4 linked regions of the Homo sapiens genome follow. The protein of the gene in region 1 purifies or fractionates together with the protein of each later gene. This does not show direct contact. Each region holds a gene or a part of one and is shown on either strand. Other genes may lie near its edges.

Evidence for each region.
Region 2: the proteins of DBT (region 1) and LYRM4 purify together in Homo sapiens (co-immunoprecipitation; one large-scale study listed by IntAct). This does not show direct contact.
Region 3: the proteins of DBT (region 1) and COQ8A purify together in Homo sapiens (co-immunoprecipitation; one large-scale study listed by IntAct). This does not show direct contact.
Region 4: the proteins of DBT (region 1) and NCAPD3 purify together in Homo sapiens (co-immunoprecipitation; one large-scale study listed by IntAct). This does not show direct contact.

Annotation. Positions count from the first base shown.
Region 1 is NC_000001.11:100,185,571-100,189,950, reverse strand, and holds the end of DBT (lipoamide acyltransferase component of branched-chain alpha-keto acid dehydrogenase complex, mitochondrial isoform 1 precursor), read left to right. Parts: 3' UTR 1-3,032; downstream 3,033-4,380. UniProt on the Homo sapiens protein: The branched-chain alpha-keto dehydrogenase complex catalyzes the overall conversion of alpha-keto acids to acyl-CoA and CO(2).
Region 2 is NC_000006.12:5,218,372-5,222,982, reverse strand, and holds part of LYRM4 (LYR motif-containing protein 4), read left to right. Parts: intron 1-4,611.
Region 3 is NC_000001.11:226,964,262-226,968,872, forward strand, and holds part of COQ8A (atypical kinase COQ8A, mitochondrial), read left to right. Parts: intron 1-738; coding exon 739-1,149; intron 1,150-1,409; coding exon 1,410-1,476; intron 1,477-4,611. UniProt on the Homo sapiens protein: Atypical kinase involved in the biosynthesis of coenzyme Q, also named ubiquinone, an essential lipid-soluble electron transporter for aerobic cellular respiration.
Region 4 is NC_000011.10:134,212,889-134,217,499, reverse strand, and holds part of NCAPD3 (condensin-2 complex subunit D3), read left to right. Parts: intron 1-401; coding exon 402-564; intron 565-4,611.

The DNA of each region.
Region 1 (4,380 bases):
AAATTTAAATTTAAATAGCTACATGTGGCTTATAGCACCATACCAGATAGCACAGATGTAGACTGTTTCCATCATCACAGAAAATTCTATTGGATAGTGCTGCCTTAACTAATAAGACACAAATGTTCTTATTTTTTAAATAGTCCCTAAAACAAACGAAAAACAAAGAACTCCCTTCTCTAATGGCAAATTTCAGTTTGCCTAAAAGAAGACTCAGAATGCTTTTCTTATATTGTTACCTCTGACTGCCACTAAATGAATAAATTTCCTGTCTTGCTCCTTCTGCCAAACTTCTTGAATGGGTGATCTTTAACTCCTTGCAATCCTGGCTTTTTTCCCCAGTGCTCACCTGTAATCAGTGTTGGCCACAACTCCCACCCAGATGTCTCCTAAATAGTTCTCTGAACCCACCTCTGTCCTGATCTACAGACATTCATTCCAATGCTTTAGCATTTCAAGGTCATCAAATGACTCAGTGACATCTCAGACAGTCAGACAGACCAGGTCAACTATGAACTATTTATGCCAAACCTTACATGGTTCATGTTATCCTTGCTATCCCATCAAAATAACCACAGGCTTTTTTTTTTTTTTTTTTTAATTTTTGAGATGGAGTCTCACTCTGTCACCCCGACTAGAGTGCAGTGGTGCGATCTCGGCTCTGCTCACTGCAACCTCCGTCTCCTGGGTTCAAACAGTGCTCATTCCTCAACTCCCAAGTAGCTGAGATTACAGGCATGCACCATCACGCCTGGCTAATTTTTCTATTTTTAGCAGAGATGGGGTTTCGCCATGTTGGCCAGGCTGGTCTCGAACTCCTGACCTCAAGTGATCTGCCCGCCTCCACCTCACAAAGCTTTGGGATTACAGGCATGAGCCACGGTGCCTGGCCTGCAGCCTCCTTTATTTTACAAAAGGCATTACCACTTAAACACTGAAGATAGCACGAATCTCTGATGTTTGCAAGTTCAGAATAAAATGGAAATGAAAATTCATTATGTGGCAGTCTCAGTACTGAGCACAAAGGCTTTTAACCACAAGCAAATTACTGTGCTAGCCAGACCGTGTGAGAGAACTCCAGGCCAGCTTGCTAAAACTGAGCAGGAGAATTTGGAGAGAGTCCAGAGGAGAGCCACAGAAACAACTGAAGCATGACAAGAATAATTGCAGTTCTGTTATAGAGAGGTCATCTATATCAGGCTTTTATGGAGTACCATGTGGAATGTTACCACGCAGAGCATGGGGAACAGCTGTTGTGACTCAACAAGAGACAGGACAGAAGAAATGAGAACAGGTGGAAGATCAATAATTTAGGTTTGATATGGGGAAAGATGGAACAGTCAAAGGGATTCACACTGATTTTTGGCTGAGCAGAAGGCAGAGTCTCCTCCAACGGGCAATGTAAGTGCCCCCACTCATCTACACCCCGAGAAGAGCCATCAAACTGTATTAAACTTGGAAAAAGCTATTTAACTTCAAGTGTGCTGCGAGAAAACTTCATAATAGTTCCTAAGATGTGCTAAAAAGTAAAGTCCAAAAAGATCATAAAGTCTGTAGAGAAGTTCTAAGAGTGCAGTCAGCTATAAAAACCTAGCAATTTAATTTCTTAGAAAAATGTAGCTGGAGTTCAAACTGTAGTAACAAAGGCAAGTAAATTAAGTTGTGGGCAGGTGTAATTAAGTTAATAGGAATGGCAGGGATGAATATAAATCAGAACAGGACTAACAGTTTGAAACATTAGATATTCAAATGCTCAGAGCTGATGAGCCGAGCCACTACGCTAACAACTCTGCAAACCAAAGGTTTCACAAATTGCACAAGAACCTGGCCTCGATCCCATTGTGTTGCTGGCATAAGATTAGAAGGGCCTGTTGGTTCAATTGTTGCTTTGGACAGAGGAGGACAAACTTGCCACAGTGAAGAAATCATTTTTAAAAACCACCACTGTCCTTTAGTGCACTAATTTCTCTAATAACTAGGTGTATATTAGAAATAATGATATATAAGTGCAGTATACTCCAGTTTCAACAGAATGGTGTCACTTCTGTAAAATGTTGATTTTCAGATTGTCATACTTTCTAAATACAAAAATTTGTCACAGCTTCCACATTTACAAGATATTAAACATTCCATAAAATATTTGTAGAAATATGAAAAACCAATTTTTGTAGTTGCCTTTTGAAATGTATACAAAATATCCCACATGGGCAACATGGTAAAACCTCGTCTCTACAAAAAAAAAAAAAAAAATACAAAAAGTTAGCCAGGCCTGGTGGTGCACGCCTGTGGTCCCAGCTACTCGGGAAGCTGAAGTGAGATCACCTGTGCCCAGGAGGTCGAAGCTGCAGTGAGCTGTGATTGCACCACTGCACTCCAGCCTGGGTGACAGAGTGAGACTTTGTCTCAAATAAACAAAAAGAGACATATACAAAATATATTAGAAAGTTGGGTTAATATCCTACAAACAAAGTATTACATAGTTTGCACAGGATTATGTGTGTAAAAAGTTTTAAATTCAGTATAGCTTTTATTTCTGCAGAACTAAAAGTAGTGCATAAAAATAAAAGTGGGATGAGCATATCTTTTTAATTTGCTATGCAGTAAAAAGTATCTCAGTCAACATATAGGAAACCAGTGCCATTTCTGTATCATTTGACACCGAAGGGGTATTGTTTTTTGTTTTGTTTTGTTTTTCTTTTGAAGAAAGACTTTTATGTCTTTTATTCTATTCTTCCGATTTGGGGTTTAAATTACCCCCAATAAGTTTGCAGAATATTCTGATTACTACTGCTTAGGTGATATATTTCATATGAGAACTATCTTTACACAATGGGAAAAAATATGGTAACCACTTCATTCATCAGAGAAGTTGTGTTTTGTTTACTTGTATTTTGTTTGCTAAATGAAATTGGTTATTTAGACTCATGGCATGCTTTTTCTCAAATGGAGATTTAAAAGTCATTTCCAATGTCCTTCTAACTTCTGGCCAATTCCCAGTAGGCTATAGAATAAACAGTTTTCATATAATAGTCTCTAGTGTCTCCACTGTTGATTGGTTTACAGAAACGACGGTGGTGGTGGTGTTGATGGTGGGGTGTGTGCGTGTGTGTGTGTGTGTGTGTGTGTGTGTGTGTATGAAAAATGACAACTGGCACAAAACAAACCTAAAAATCAGAAGTACATTTTAATTCCTAGTTAAAAACATTAACTTTTTATTCATAAAATACATATTTAATAATAGAAAAAAGAAAAGGGAATAATTAGCACTTAAAATGAACAATTTTTCTTAGCTATTTTAGTAACTTAAATATTTAAGGTATTAAAAGATTGAAACTGTGGGCCGGGGTCATGCCTGTAATCCCAGCACTTTGGGAGACTGAGGTGGGTGGATCACCCGAGGTCAGGAGTTTGAGACCAGCCTGGCCAACATAGTGAAACCCCATCTCTACTAAAAAATACAAAAATTAGCTGGGTGTGGTGGTGGGTGCCTGTAGTCCCAGCTACTTGGGAGGCTGAGGCAGGAGAATTGCTTGAACCTGGGAGGTGAAGGTTGCAGTGAGCCCAGATCACACCACTGCACTCCAGCCTGGGCAACAGAGCAAGACTCTGTCTCAAAAAAAAAGATTGAAACTGTGGGGAAATGTAGCAGAAGTCATATGAGACTGACTGGAATCAGAGTTTAAGGTCCAGGGGAAAGACATTTGGTGTCCACCAACATTCCCCACCTCTCCTTAGAAACAGTCTCTGTTTTGTGAGACCAAGTGGTTCAAGTTAGGATGTAGCCATAACTTTCTAATATAAATCTCAAAATATGGAGAAGAATGACCCATTAACATTTGGCAAGTGTACAGTCTGTTATTTAAGAGTTTTCCTTGCATAGACACACAGACACACACACATCCATCCACCCAACCTTACCTGGAAGATTTCCACATAAAGGAGTATCGGTGTTCACAACAGTGTAGTACTGGCATAAAGACAGACATAAAGACCAATGGAATAGAATAGAGGCCCAGAAATAAACCCTCACATATATGGTCAAATGTTTTTCTGACAAGGGTGCCAAGACAATTCACACTCTTGTGAAAGGGGAAAGAACAGTCTTTTCAGCAAGTGGTGCTGGGAACACTAGAATGAAGAATACAAAAGAATGAAGTTGGACCCTGCTATGGTCTGAATGTTGTGTCCCCCCCATTAATTCATACATTGAAACCTAATCCCCAAGGTGATGGTATTAAGAAGTGGGGCTTTTGGGAGATAATTAGATCATAAGGACATTGCCTTCATAAATGGGATTAGTGTCCTTATAAAAGAGGCCCTGAAGGAGCTTGTTTCACCTGTGAGGATACAGGGAGAAAGTACTACCTATGAGGAATACAC
Region 2 (4,611 bases), on another chromosome or scaffold:
CCATGCAGTTCAGTTTGTTCACACTTATTATTCATAGGTTATACACCTTTGCCCTATTCTGAAGGTTAATTTTTTTCTTACATATTTCTCACCAACGTATTTAATTTTTCCATGCTTTAGATTTGAATTTCTAGTTTGTCTTGTTTTAATTCAGTGTTATTGCTTCTGTCAGCCATGTACATATTCTCTAGCATTCTAATCTTTCTTTTTTTTTTTTTCTTGTTTTGCTTTTCTTAAAAGTGGGCAAATGTAATATAACTTCTATACTTTTTTTTAATTTACTTTAATAGTCATCTTACTGAGGAATAATTTACATACAATCAAGTGCATCCATTTTAAGGGTACAGTTCAATGATTTGACAAACCTAAGGGCATGTGAAAACACCGCCCCATTCAAGAGAAGGACCACTCCATTACCTCAAACCAGTCCCCTTGGGCCCTTTGTGTTAACTTGGAATGGCTTCTGTTTCTTATTTCATCTCTTTATCTACAGATCTTGTCACCCACCGAACCTGAGACCAGTACCCTAGTTATTCTCCACTGTATTCCCAGCTCCTGGCATAATGCTTATATAGTAGGCATTTAGTATGTATTTCTTGAATAAATTGTAATTTTGAATTTTGTAATCATTGCCTTCTAAAAGTTGTTTGAATCTTTTTGCTGCAAACCCTTTTTTCATTGTTTTGTTTTCATTATTGGTTATTGGTACTTTTCTTGAAGGTCTTTTTGATATTGCCTATGATATTTTGATAAGCTCATTTATTCATTAAACATGTATTGAATATCTTCTCTGTACCAGACACATACAGTGGTGAGCCAGAAAGATTAAAGTTCCTGCTATGTGGGGCTTACATTGTACCAGGAGCTCACATTATCAGAAAGAAACTTTCTGCTCTTCTTCACTCTGTTATATACCCAGAGTCCGTGTGACCTTCAAATGATCCTTGAGCTTCCTCTCCATAGGCATCGTGATCCATTTGATTATACACTACACACATACACACACCATAACCCCAAGGATGTTAAATAACTTCGAGAGAGAAGAGCCTGAACCAAGATTGGGGCTGAGGAGTTGGAGAAGTAGAGGTGATTCAGAAGGGATGTGGAAAGTTACGATTGGAAGATTTGTGATTGGTTGCATATAGGGAGTTCTGGGAAAGGAAAGAATTTAGGATGAGTCTCTAAGTATTTGACTTGGGCAGTTGACTGCATGAAGATTCTCCTACCTGAGGAAGGAAGTATTGGTCATCATGAGCACTTCAGGTTTTTGTTTGTTTGTTTGTTTGTTCTTGAGACATTGTCTTGCCCTGTAGCCCAGGCTGGAGTGCAGTGGCGCGATCTTGGCTCACTGCAACTTCCGCCTCCGGGTTCAAGCAGTTCTCCTGTCTCAGCCTCCCAGGTAGCTGGGATTACAGACATGTGCCACCGCACCCAGCTAATTTTTGTATTTTTAGTAGAGACAGGGTTTCACCATGTTGACCAGGCTGGTCTCAAACTCCTGACCTCGTGATCCGCCCGCCTTGGCCTCCCAGAGTGCTGAGATTACAGGCATGAGCCACCGCACCCAGCCAGGCACTTCGGTTTTGAATGTATTCACTGGAAGAGTCTATATTTTAGTTGACAAGTGCAAAAGGCAATTGGGTATATGGATTTGGACCTCAGAAGGAAGGTCTGGACTAGAGAAATATTGGTAGCCAATGGCATCTATATGGCAGGTGAAACCTTTGACAGATGCAATTACTGGCAGAGATCTTATGAATAAGAAAAATGGTTCACATATGTGCCCTAGAGAATACAGCATGTAAGGGGCAGCAGAATGAGATGAGCCCACAAAGGAGCTTGGGAAGGAGTAGCTAGGCCAGATATAGTGGCTCACACCTGTAATCCCAGCACTTTGAGAGGCCAAGGCAAGAGGATCACTGGAAGTCAGGAGTTTGAGACCAGCCTGGGCAGCATAGTGACACCCTCTCTCTACAAAATGAAAATTAGCAGGTCATGGTGGCATGCTGCTGTATTCCCAGCTACTTGGGAGGGTGAGGCGGAAGGATCGTTTGAGCCCAGGAGTTTGAGGCTACAGAGAGCTATAATAGGGCCATTGCACTTCAGCCTGGGTGACAGTGAAACCCTGTCTCTGAAAAAAGAAACCTAAAACTGGAGGTCTGTGTATTGCAATGAGTGCTCTTTAGACATTAAGACTTGAATATGAAGACTTGACCTCCAGAAATTAACAAGTAACAGTATCATGGAGGCATGCAACACAGTATTGTCAGATGGCATGACCTCAAAGATGCATAAGGGTGAATCAGTGATCTGAAAGCAGCAGCAGGCTCCCGGAATACACCAGCACCCTCCTCTGGGCCCTGTGGAATATGGGGACATGCTAGAATTTAGCAGCTTCCTCTTGCACATTTCAGTTAAGGCAAGTAGGTGGAGGATGTGTCCTTCCAAGTCATTGGAGGTAGATGAGTTTGCCCCACAGAGGCCAGTAGAAAGGATTCAGCTTTTATTGTTCCTAGGATACTTGAGTTCAGGTTACAGAGGACCAAGAAAAGGCACAGATGTGTTTATAGGATAGGTACACAGAGAAACCAGCACTTGAGATGCTGATGAAGATGACAGAAATGAAAGGCATTACATTAGGTGGTTTCCACATCACACATTGGATGCTAAAGCTGATATGAGCCTCCAAGTGCTCAGAGGCTGTGATTATGGCTGCATTTGGTGTTTCTGGGAGGGGACAGAGTAAAGCAGAACCTCAAGCACTGAAGAGCTTTCGTTACTGCCTGCTGTGCAACAGGGAAATTGGAGTTTTGAGTGGAAGAATCTCAGAAAAGAGTATAATCCTTGCAATGGTAAAAAGAACCTGTGGGCACTTGAGATCTAATGACAGAATGAAGAGCAAAGGCTGGGGTGGAGAAGGAAAGCCAAATGGGAGTCTCCTGTGCAAAGAAGCACCAAGAAACTGCCAAGCTTCAGGAGAGTGGAAAGGGCAGTGTGTGTGCGAGCATCATCACCTCACTGTTTCTGTGGCTGTGGGGCTGCTGCTTTGTATTTGGTTGTGTTGCCCTTTCTGCGTTAGTTTTTCATGCCGTATTTCAGACAGCGTCTGACTCATTAGGATCATCCTAATGCACAGCATTGTGTAGCACCTAGCTGCCATTTTCACAGCAACTTCTGCAAATTTTTCTTTGAAATATTCTTGCTCAGTGGTATGGTCAAGAGGCTGATAGCCAGAATCTGCAAAAAAGAAAAGCAAAGAAAAAAGAAAAAAAAAAAAGCAAATGATAAAAACCAGGGCAGGGCCAGGATTGAAATAACTGGTGATTAGCCCCCTCCCACCAAATTTGAAGATTCACTCAGATTTTTGATGACTTTCACAAAGCTGTGATCATTCGAAATAAGAATTCTTACAACTAAGGAAGAAACTCTTCATGCAGTAGTAGTTTTGTGGTTCTGAGCCAGTGAAATATTTTCCCTTAGGGCGAAGAATAACACTGGGTGCTTTAAGTGAGGCAGAAAGAGCAGGAAAGAGAGGAGGGAACCATTACAGCATTCATCTCGAAAGTGCATCGAAAATTTGAATCATGACTCTTGATTGCTTTAGACACATTTAATTCCAAGATCTAGAGCTGCTTTTCTTTAGGTAAGGACTTTGGAGAGCTGGGGAGACAAACAAGTATACATAGCAGAATATCCTGACCCTGGGCCTTGAGCTCAGTTGATATAAATTGTTGAGTGTTTTAAGCTATTTTCTCATTTCCTTAAACTTTGGAAGACCTTAGGTCTTTACATTCCAAACAGTACTCCTTTTTTCCTAGCTATTCTAAGCTAGTTACTAGCTTTTAGAAAAATGAGTTTAGCAATAGCTACTGTTGCCCATTTTGTTTTTCCAAGAAGCCCATGCAGCATACGAAATGAAAAATTTAAACAATAGATGATTCCTGGAGGTAAATTCATGTTATAAACCAATTTTGCCTGTGGAACAAATATTAGAATTAAATTATTTTGTCCCCTCTTTGCTGCCATCATTGCCAAAAAAGAAACTGCTTTGGAGGAGTATGTGGTTGTCAAGAAGAACAGTGATGCTGTGTTTTATAAATAGCCATTAGGCTATGCAAGAAAGTGCCAGAAATTGCTGTTAATTTACCTAGCTGCTATCTAAAATCTTGTTAGATTAGCAGCTGCACCTGAGGAGAGTCTGTATCTGATGTATTCCATTTGTAAAATCCTCCCATATCCCTTTAGAAGTGAATGAGCCCCAGTTATTTAGCAGCTGCTAGTACATGGATTCCATGCCCAATCGCTGTAGCCCTTTAGGATTGATACTGAGCGCTCAGCAGCTCCTCTGAAATACTCCAGCTGGTTCACAGAGGGTTAAGATCAAAGTCTCAGCAGTGTCTTACATTCTAAGTACCGGTTCCTAAACTCTTCCCTTCTCCTTTATGATTCCTAGTATCATAAGATTTAGTTTTACTCTTGCTTTTAAATGCAAATAGACCTGACATTTGAATTTTTTAATGTAAAATGCCTTTTTACTTTAAAAAACTTTATCTGAAACAATTTGTCCTTTTTAAGATAAAGTTTCCCAATAAGTTATATGAGCTCCCAACA
Region 3 (4,611 bases), about 130 Mb from region 1:
GTAACTGTGACTGTGAGGAGCCCTATTTTCAGATGAGGAAGTAGCAGAGAAGGGTCAGGAGCTCACTCAAGGTCACTCCTGGTTCAGAAGCAGAAAGGACCTGGGCCCGAAGCTCAGGCCTTGGTGACCATCACAAAGAAAACATGGCGTATCCTCTCCCCTGCCCCTCCATTTCCCTGTACCCTGAGCTCTTAGGGACGGCCAGGCCTGGTCCTGGTTGTAACCACCTCTCCAGTGAGGATCTCTTACATGCATACCCCGGCTGGTGGGTGGCATCCATGTCTGCAGTAAGCTGTGGGCTTAGGTGGGCCCGTCGGTGTGCTTCCCTCACCCCTTGCTGGCCTTAGGCTGTGTGTTCACCTCTCAGAGCTTTCCCTGTCTTTTGCGCCCTGGTTTACCATCTCCAAAGCCCTGGAGGCCTTCTTGGCCCTGTTTTATAGGTGAGGAACCCGCTGCGGGCGTAGTGTGCACTTGGCCTGGCCCCGGCTGGGCACACAGTAGGTGCTCAGTGTCCCACCTAGGACCACACAGCAGAGCCCCAACAGAAGCAGGGCTGGAGCCCAGGTCCCGGCTCCCAGGCTGGGAAGGGTGCCGGGCCTCAGGTGCAGCACTGTGCCACCTCTGGAGGTGGGAGGGGGCGGGATGCTGGTGGTGTGCTGTCCTGGGCAGCAGGGGACAGGCAGGGAGGAGCTCCTGGCTCGCTCTTGCTCTCCTAATGCTGGCCTTTGCTCCCTGCAGGGTCAGGATAAACATGAAGAATATTTTGCTGAGAACTTCGGCGGCCCAGAAGGGGAGTTCCACTTCTCAGTCCCGCATGCAGCCGGAGCCTCCACAGACTTCTCTTCAGCCTCCGCTCCCGACCAGTCAGCGCCCCCATCCCTGGGTCATGCCCACAGCGAGGGCCCAGCTCCTGCCTACGTGGCCAGTGGACCCTTTAGAGAAGCCGGGTTCCCCGGCCAGGCCTCCTCCCCTCTGGGCAGGGCCAACGGGAGGCTCTTTGCAAACCCCAGAGACTCATTCTCTGCCATGGGCTTTCAGCGAAGGTTCTTCCACCAGGACCAATCCCCTGTTGGGGGCCTCACAGCCGAGGACATTGAGAAGGCCCGGCAGGCTAAGGCTCGCCCCGAGAACAAGCAGCACAAACAGACGGTGCGTATGGGAGGCCCCTGGAGGGCCGAGGTAGCTGCCACCCACAGCAGTGATGGCCTTGGGCTCTGCTCTAGGGACTTTTCCTGGGTGCTGTGGTCTGGGGTTTTTAGGAGCGTGGTGGCCTTCTCTTGGTGGAGTGTGCTGTCAGGCGGAGCTGCTGACTGTGGGGTGGAGAGGAGATGTGGGGGCAACAGGAGCCTCTGAAGGTTGGTCCTGTCCCCTTGGCTGATTCCACAGGTCTCTTTCTCGTCTCCCTCCAGCTCAGCGAGCATGCCCGGGAGCGGAAGGTGCCTGTGACGAGGATTGGCCGGCTGGCCAACTTCGGAGGTAAGGTGGCTGTGTGCCCCTGGACTGCCTCACCTGCCCTGCCTGGGCACCACGCTGCGGCCTGCATGGAGGTGGGGACCCAGCAATATCCCGGGGAGGGCGTTGGGGGAGCAGGTGGCGGTGGCCGCCCCTGCATGAGCTTTTGGGGAGCTGGAGTTTTTCATGGGAGGATGATTCAGTTACTGGATTCCAGCTCTGCCTGGCTCTCCCCTGCGGGTTGGTACAGGGCCGATGCTGTGCCAGGAGCTGAGTTTGGATTGCCCGGCAGGCCTCGCCTGGAGGCGGTGTCTGCAGCATCTCTGTTTCACCCCTGCCTCAGGTTCACTACCAGTCGGCTGCTTTGGAGGCCTCTCAGGAAGGAGGCTGGGCAGTGAGGAAAAGCTCTTCCCTGGGGCTGTTCAGCAACTCAGCAGGGCTTTCTTTCCCCCTGGGACCAGACATTTAGGGAGCCCATTTGCTGGGTCCCCACAGGCCTGCGGCTCATGAGTGGAGTGACAAGATGCCATGGCCTCCAGCTGCTGCTGTTTAAAGCCGTTTGTCTGTACTTTGGGGGGTTGAGTTGTCATTGTGCCCAGTACACATGCGCTCTTTTTATAGAAGTTGAAGGGTGATTTTATAGTGAAGGTTTATAGCAGTTGTGTCTGCTTTGATGGCATCATGTTTGTCATGCTGCTGCTAATGCGCTGGCCCAGATGTTCCTGTTAAAGTGCCATCTCCTTTGCTGTGGTACACTCTAAGTTAGTTACTGGGATTGCATTTCTTTAACACTCAGCTGTCCTCAGTAGGTTCTCCAGGTGATATAATTAATGGAAGCCACAGTTTTGGTGGCTTGATTTGGACCCTGACCTTGGGTGAGTGGTTAGTTCCAGGGCTGTAGGCAGCAGAGGTCTGAGTGGTCCATGATGGTGCTGGTGCTGGGTGGGGCATGGAGATGCACTCTCATGGGTCTGCCTGTCTCTTTGCTGGTTTATGTTTTTCCTCCCATACACCATCCATCATACATGCTGTTCCTCCGCTCCTGCCTATTCTCTTTTGGAAACCCCATCCTACTTGTTCAAGACTGGTTCTGGGCAGAGGCTCACGTACTGTGCTCCCCGAGAGCCTGGTATTCTGGGAGCTGCGTAATGTGTGTGGGTTCTGACATTGAATGATGGCTGGCCCCCCTCTCCAAGGTGCTGAGCAGACTTGGTTAACTGGATAGAATTTTCTCAGCAGTAAGGTTTTCTTTCATAATTTTTACCTTAATATTTGGCATCCACTGTACTTAGCCATTCAGGAATTTAGTATGAAGTGTCATCTATGTGACAGCCAAGAGTATTTGCTTATTTCCTTTTCCTGGGGTAACATTTCAAGCAGTCCCTCATAGAATATCACACCTCCCTGAGTTCTGCTGTCAGAATGAGTTTGAGAATCACTGCCTTGGTGGCCTCTAGTGGTCCTTATCCCCTGGAAGACTTGGCATGTTACTTGCTTTGCACATTGGCTTGTCATTGGGTAACATGTATTATTTCTTATTAAAATATTGAATGGAGGCTGTCTTCTTTCCCCATGATATTGAGGGCAGGAGCTACCCTGTTTTCACATCGGTACCTTTTCTCTGTCCCCTCCCTCTTCCTTTCACTCTAGACTCTTGGTGAGCCTGTCCCTGGAAGGCTGAGTTTGACGTGTTTCAGGACTGGTGCAGTCCTCACTTCGGAGTCTTTGTGGGGTGGGGAGAAGCGGTAGAGCTAATGCAGGCTGTTAGGGAAAAGTGGTCAGAATGAAAGTCTTGATGGTGAATTAGAATCTGGTGGAGCACCACGAAGTCCTGGCGAAGGAGGCAGTAGTCAGACCCTTTTGGGTGACGGGTTAAGGAAGACAGAGACTGATGTGGAAGGGGTTATATATAGGAAGATGTGTAGGAAGAAAAAGGTAGAGAGCTCTCCTCAGAGGGTGGGGGATTATGGGTAGCCAGAGGGAGCCTGGGTTAGTGGAGTTGAAGCCCTAGTCTTGGGTGCTTTGTAGCATCAGAAGCCTCTGGAGCCTTTGCTGACACCTGCCTGATGTACGGAGCCATCTGTGGGTGTCTGTGTGCTGGAGGATTGCCCACAGCTATGATTCAGAGATGCTCATGTTGTTGCCCAAGCAATTGACAGATGATGTTTCAGGCTTGGAGATGGCAGGATGGGAGCAAAGAGAAGCCAGGTCAGGAAAGAACGTGCCGTTCTGGCCCTAGTGGGGAATTCTGGGCCTTCTGGCTCACCCAGTTGAACCTTTCAAACTGTAGGTTATGACCCTTTAGTAACTGTGAAATTAATTTAATGCATCAGGATCAGCATATAAAAAACAAGTTAACTGTAATCTCAGCACTTTGGGAGGCCGAGGTGGGAGAATCACCTGAGGTCAGGAGTTTGAGACCAGCCTGGCCAACATGGTGAAACCCCAATTCCTACTAAAAAAATACAAAAATTAGCTAGGTGTGGTGGCATGTGACTGTAATCCCAGCTACTCGGGAGGCTGAGGCACAAGAATTGCTTGAGCCCAGGAGGGAGAGGTTGCAGTGAGCTGAGATTGCGCCACTGCACTCCAGTGGGGGCGACAGAGTGAGACTCTGTCTCAAAAAACAAGTTAAACAGAATGGAATTCAATAGAAAAGATTAGAATTAATATCGTACATCCTTACAATGAACTATACACATGGCAAGATATTTTAGTTTCAGAGACATACATACTATTTAAGTATGTTCTTCACTACAATGTGAAATATATAGCTTACTGGTGGGTCATCATCCAAACAGTTTGTAGTTGCACTGTTGCGCTTTGTTCTCCTAGAAAATACCTCTAGCCTTTCTTCCCTTCATGGAGGAAAGGTGTTTTTCAGGTGCAGACTGACAGACTTTAGGAAGTTTTTACACGGGGTTATGAAGGAAAGGGATTGCTCTAGGTCTCAGGGAGGTAGGGCTGCTGCAGGGACCCAGACGGGTTTTCAGCGAGGTTGGCAGTAGGTATTCAGCTATATAGAAGTGGAAGTCAAGGACTTTCCAATTCCAGGGGCTCATTTTGATGCTGAAATGGGGGCGGGGCATGAGTCCTAAGTCCAATTTGGCTATGGGACATTATGACTGTGATGCTATGGGCAGGATGATCTGTGGATAT
Region 4 (4,611 bases), on another chromosome or scaffold:
TCAGTTAGTAATTATTGGTAAAGGAATTTGAGTTCCTTTTAATATAAATAGAGGGATAACTTTCCTGAATAATCACTAATATATGGTGTCCCAAAAGTCTTAGTGTAGTTTTAAGCTATAATTTCTGAAGTATATATGCTACAAACTTAACAAAAAATTCTTTTGAAAGTTTAATTATTTAAATATGTTATATACATATTTATCTTGGTAATTTTGAATAATATACCTTTAATTTTGATATTTTGTTTCAGTCCCTTTGAAGATGGTAAACATTTAGCAGTAGGAGCCAGGCTACTCTATTCCTCTTTTTGTAAGGCACCAAGAACTTACAAAAATCAAATAATAGGAAATGTTTCCATTTCTCTAATGACTGGCTTTTGTGATTTGCGGTCTCCCCACAGAGTATCTGGACCTTCTTCATTGAGAACAATGTTTCCCATAGTACACTGGTGGCATTGTTCTATCATTTTGTTCAAATAGTTCATAAGAAGAATGTCAGTGTACAGTATCGAGAATATGGCCTTCATGCCGCTGGGCTTTACTTTTTGCTACTAGAAGTACCAGGTATGTAGACCTGATATGATAGGATAAATCTTCTGTCATTTTTTTCTTTCTACAGTTTTCAATTCTTATACTTTGTTTCTTGTTTCTTCACTTATAAATGGGGCAGTGCTAACCCATGGCAGAGAGTTGTTGCGAGGAGCAAGTCTCTAAAGTACATGGCATGTTATAGGTCTTGGAAAACCTTCCCCCTTTTTTTTTTCATCCGAAGTTATGCTATCTATAAACTAATAAAAATAGTCTGAGAAGGAGTGCAAGAGTTCCACGCCCACCCTCCACCACGGCCGTCTAAAATTCTGATATTGCCCTTTCTTCTCATGATTCCTTGTCTAGACTGAGAAATACTGCTGTGGGGAGTCATTGCTTTTTACCTCTCCGATGTTGGTATTGAAAAATAGATTAAAACCATTCTAATCAAGAAAGCAGGAAAGCAGCTAGTAATACTTGAAGGAGAGCACTGACCAGGAGTCTGTTTTCGAGCACTGTTTTACTTGATTGTCAGAGCACTGAGGAGGCTGTTCCTCCTATGACAGTGAAATCCATTCTCTTCCCTACTCCAAACACAGGGTGAGAGAGAGTGGAACATAGAGATTGAGTCAGATAACCTGAAGTTCATATGGAAAAGAGAATGGCAAGATCAGTCACCTTGCTGCTTATCTTTGTTTAATTACAAATGTTTAGCAAAGGATTTATTCCATGTGATCTGGGAATGGGCAAAAAGGTCTTATATTTAAAGCCCTGAACATTGATTTGTGTTGTTGTTAATGCTCCCATCATGACTTTGGAAATGAGTAAGTTCCTAAAGGATTTTGTTGCTAAGCAGTGTCTCGGTTGTAACTAGGCCCTCTCTCAAAAAAGTAGTGGTTTTAGAAACCCAGTTTCACTCTCCTCTTGCCAGATGCAGTTTCTTCTGATTAAGGTTGAGATTTATGCCAGAGCAAAGAGGTGGCTGTTACTAATTGCGTGGGCCACTTGCAGCTTTCCAGCAAGCCGTATTCCTGCCAGTTACCTTCTGTTTTTAAATGTTTCGGGTTTATGATTGGGATGCTGTCGATACTTAACATTCGATCACAGTATATTCTTTTTCAGGATCGTTTTGGTTGTTCTGCCTCCCTTGCATTTCCATGTGAATTTTAGGATCTGTACGTGAATTTCTGCAACAATAAAAAAGCCAGCTGCGGTTTTGACAGGGATTGCATTGAAACTGTAGATGAGTTTGTGAAGTATTGCCAATTTAACAACATTAGGTCTTCTAATCCCTAGCCGCAGGATGTCTTTCCATTTATTGTAGATCTTCTTTAATTTGTTTCAATAATGCTCTATAATTTTTGGTGCGCAACTCTTGCATCTCCCCTTTAAAATTTATTCTTAAGTGTTATTTTCAATGCTAGTGTAAATGAAATTGTTTTCTTAATTTTATTTTGGTTTATTAGTACTGTATAGAAGCAAAATTGATTTTGATTATTGATCTTCTATCCTAGAACCTTGCCAAACTCATTTGTTGGTTCCAACAGGGTTTTCTTTGTGTAAGATCATGTCATCTGTGAATAGACACAGGTTTACTTCTTTCTTTCTAGTCTGGGTTCTTTCTATTTATTTTTCTTACCTATTTGCCCTGGCTAGAACCTCCAGTACAGTGTTGAATAGAAGGGGAGCGTGGGGATCCTTGTCTATTCCTGATCTTAAGGGGAAAGCATCCAGTCTTGCCTTTAGGTATGATGTTACCTGTGGGTTTCTCAGGATGGCCCTTATTAAGTTATTATTCCTAGTTTACTGAGTGCTTCATTATGAAAGGCTGTTGGATTTTGTCATTCGCTTTTCTGCACTTGTGAAGTGCTCATGTGGTTTTTGTTTCTTATTCTAATATAGTATATTACATTGGTTGATTTTCACATATTAAACCAATTTTGTATGACCTTGGTCATGGTGTATAATCCTTTTTATATGTTGTCAGAGTGTTTGCTAATATTTTGTTGAAGGTTTTTTGTCTATATTCATAAGGGATATTCTTTTTTTGAGATATTTTTGTCTGGTTTGAGTATCTGGGTATCTTGGTAATACCATTTTCATAGAATAAGTTACATAGTATTCCCTTCTCTTCTGTATTTTGGAAGATTTTGGGTTTTCTTTTTTCTTCAGATGTTTGGTAGAACCCACTAGTGAAGTCATCTGGGCCTGGAGTTTTTTGAAAGAAGTTTATGTTTGTAGAATTTCTAGTGATCTCCTCTCATGCCTGATGTTGGTGATTTGTATTTTGTTTTTTCTTGATCAATCTAGATCGAGATTTATTCATTTTACTGTTCATTTTGGAGGGCCCCCTTTTGATGTCATTAATTAAATTCTGTTGTTTGTCCCTTTCTTGTTTCATTGATTTCTGGTCTTATGTCTACGATTTCCTTTCTTCTTACTTTGGGTTTAATTTGCTCTTATTCTGACTTTTTAAGGTAGATGCTTAGATCTTTGTTCTCACATGCATTTCTTTGTTTCTAATACAAGTATTTAATACTATAAATGTCCCTCCAGGTACAGCTTCATCTGCATCCCACAAATTTCGATGATATGTTTTTACTGTTGTGCAGGCCAAAGTGATTTTCAAATTTTTCTTGTCATTACTTACATCTCTGAGTTGTTTAGTAAATTGAGTTTATTTTCCAAATATTTGAACTTTCCTGAAATCTTACTGTAATTGAGTTTTAATTGGTGGGATCAGAGAACATACTTCATATGATTATGATACTTTTAAATTATTTAGTTGTGCCTTTTTTTTTAATGGACTTAGAGTCTAATTTGGTGAATCTTCCATTTGCACTTTAACAGAATGTGTACCTTGCCTTTGTTGGATCTAGTATTCTGTAAATGTCAGTTAGGTCAAGTTGGTTACAAATGTTATTCAAGACTTACATATGCTTCCTGATGTTCTGTTTATTTGTTCTATCTGTTGTTGAGAGAGGAATGTTGGAATCTCTAAGAATAATTATCAGTTTATCTATTTCTCCTCTCAGTTCTTTTAACTTAAGATATTGTGAAAGTCTGACGGATACAGATGTATTTATGATTGTCATGTCTTCCTGATGGATTGGTCCTTTTAGTATTATGTTATGTCCTTGTTTGTCTGGTTATATTCCTTGTCTTGAAGTCTACTTTGTCTAATACTAAGATAGCCACTATAGTTATCTTAAGATTTGTCCTTGGTTGGTACATCATTTCTCATGCTTTTATTTGTAACCTATCCATATGTTTATATTTAAAGGTTTTCTTGTAGACTGCCTGTCACGTGGTCATGGCTTTTCTTTTTCTTTTTTTTTTTTTTAAGAGAGACGAGGCCACACACGGTGGCTCACACCTGTAGTCCCAGCACTTTGGGAGGCTGAGGCGGGCGGATCACTTGAAGTCAGGCATTTAAGACCAGCCTGGCCAACATGGTGAAACCCCGTCTCTACTAAAAATACAAAAATTAGCCGGATATGGTAACACGTCTGTAATCCCAGTTACTCGGGAGGCTGAGGCAGGAGAATCGCTTGAACCCAGGCAGTAGAGGTTGCAGTGAGTTGAGATCGTGCCACTGCACTCCAGCCTGGGTGACAGTGAGACTCTGTCTCAGAAAAAAAAAAGAGAGGTCCAGGGTCTCAGTCTGTCACCCAGGCTGGAGTGCAGTGGCAATCATAGCTCACTTTAACCTTGAACTCCTGGGCTCCTCAGCCTCCAGAATAGCTGGAACTACAAGTGTGAGTCACCATGACAAGCTAATTATTATTACTTTATTTTATTTTTGTAGAGACAGGGTCTCGCTATGTTGTTGCCCAGGCTGGTCGCAATCTCTTGGCCTCAAGTGATCCTCCTGCTTCAGCCTCCCAAAGGGCTGGGATTGTAAGCATGAGCCCTCACACCCAGCCCATTTGGTCATGCTTCTTTCTGACAATGTTTGCTTTTGTATCAGAATGTTTAAATTGTTTAGCTGATTACATTTAGAGTAATTATCAATGTAGCTGGGTTTCTGCCATTTTTCTATTTATTTTCTATTTCTTTAAACCTGTTTTTTGCTCAATTTTT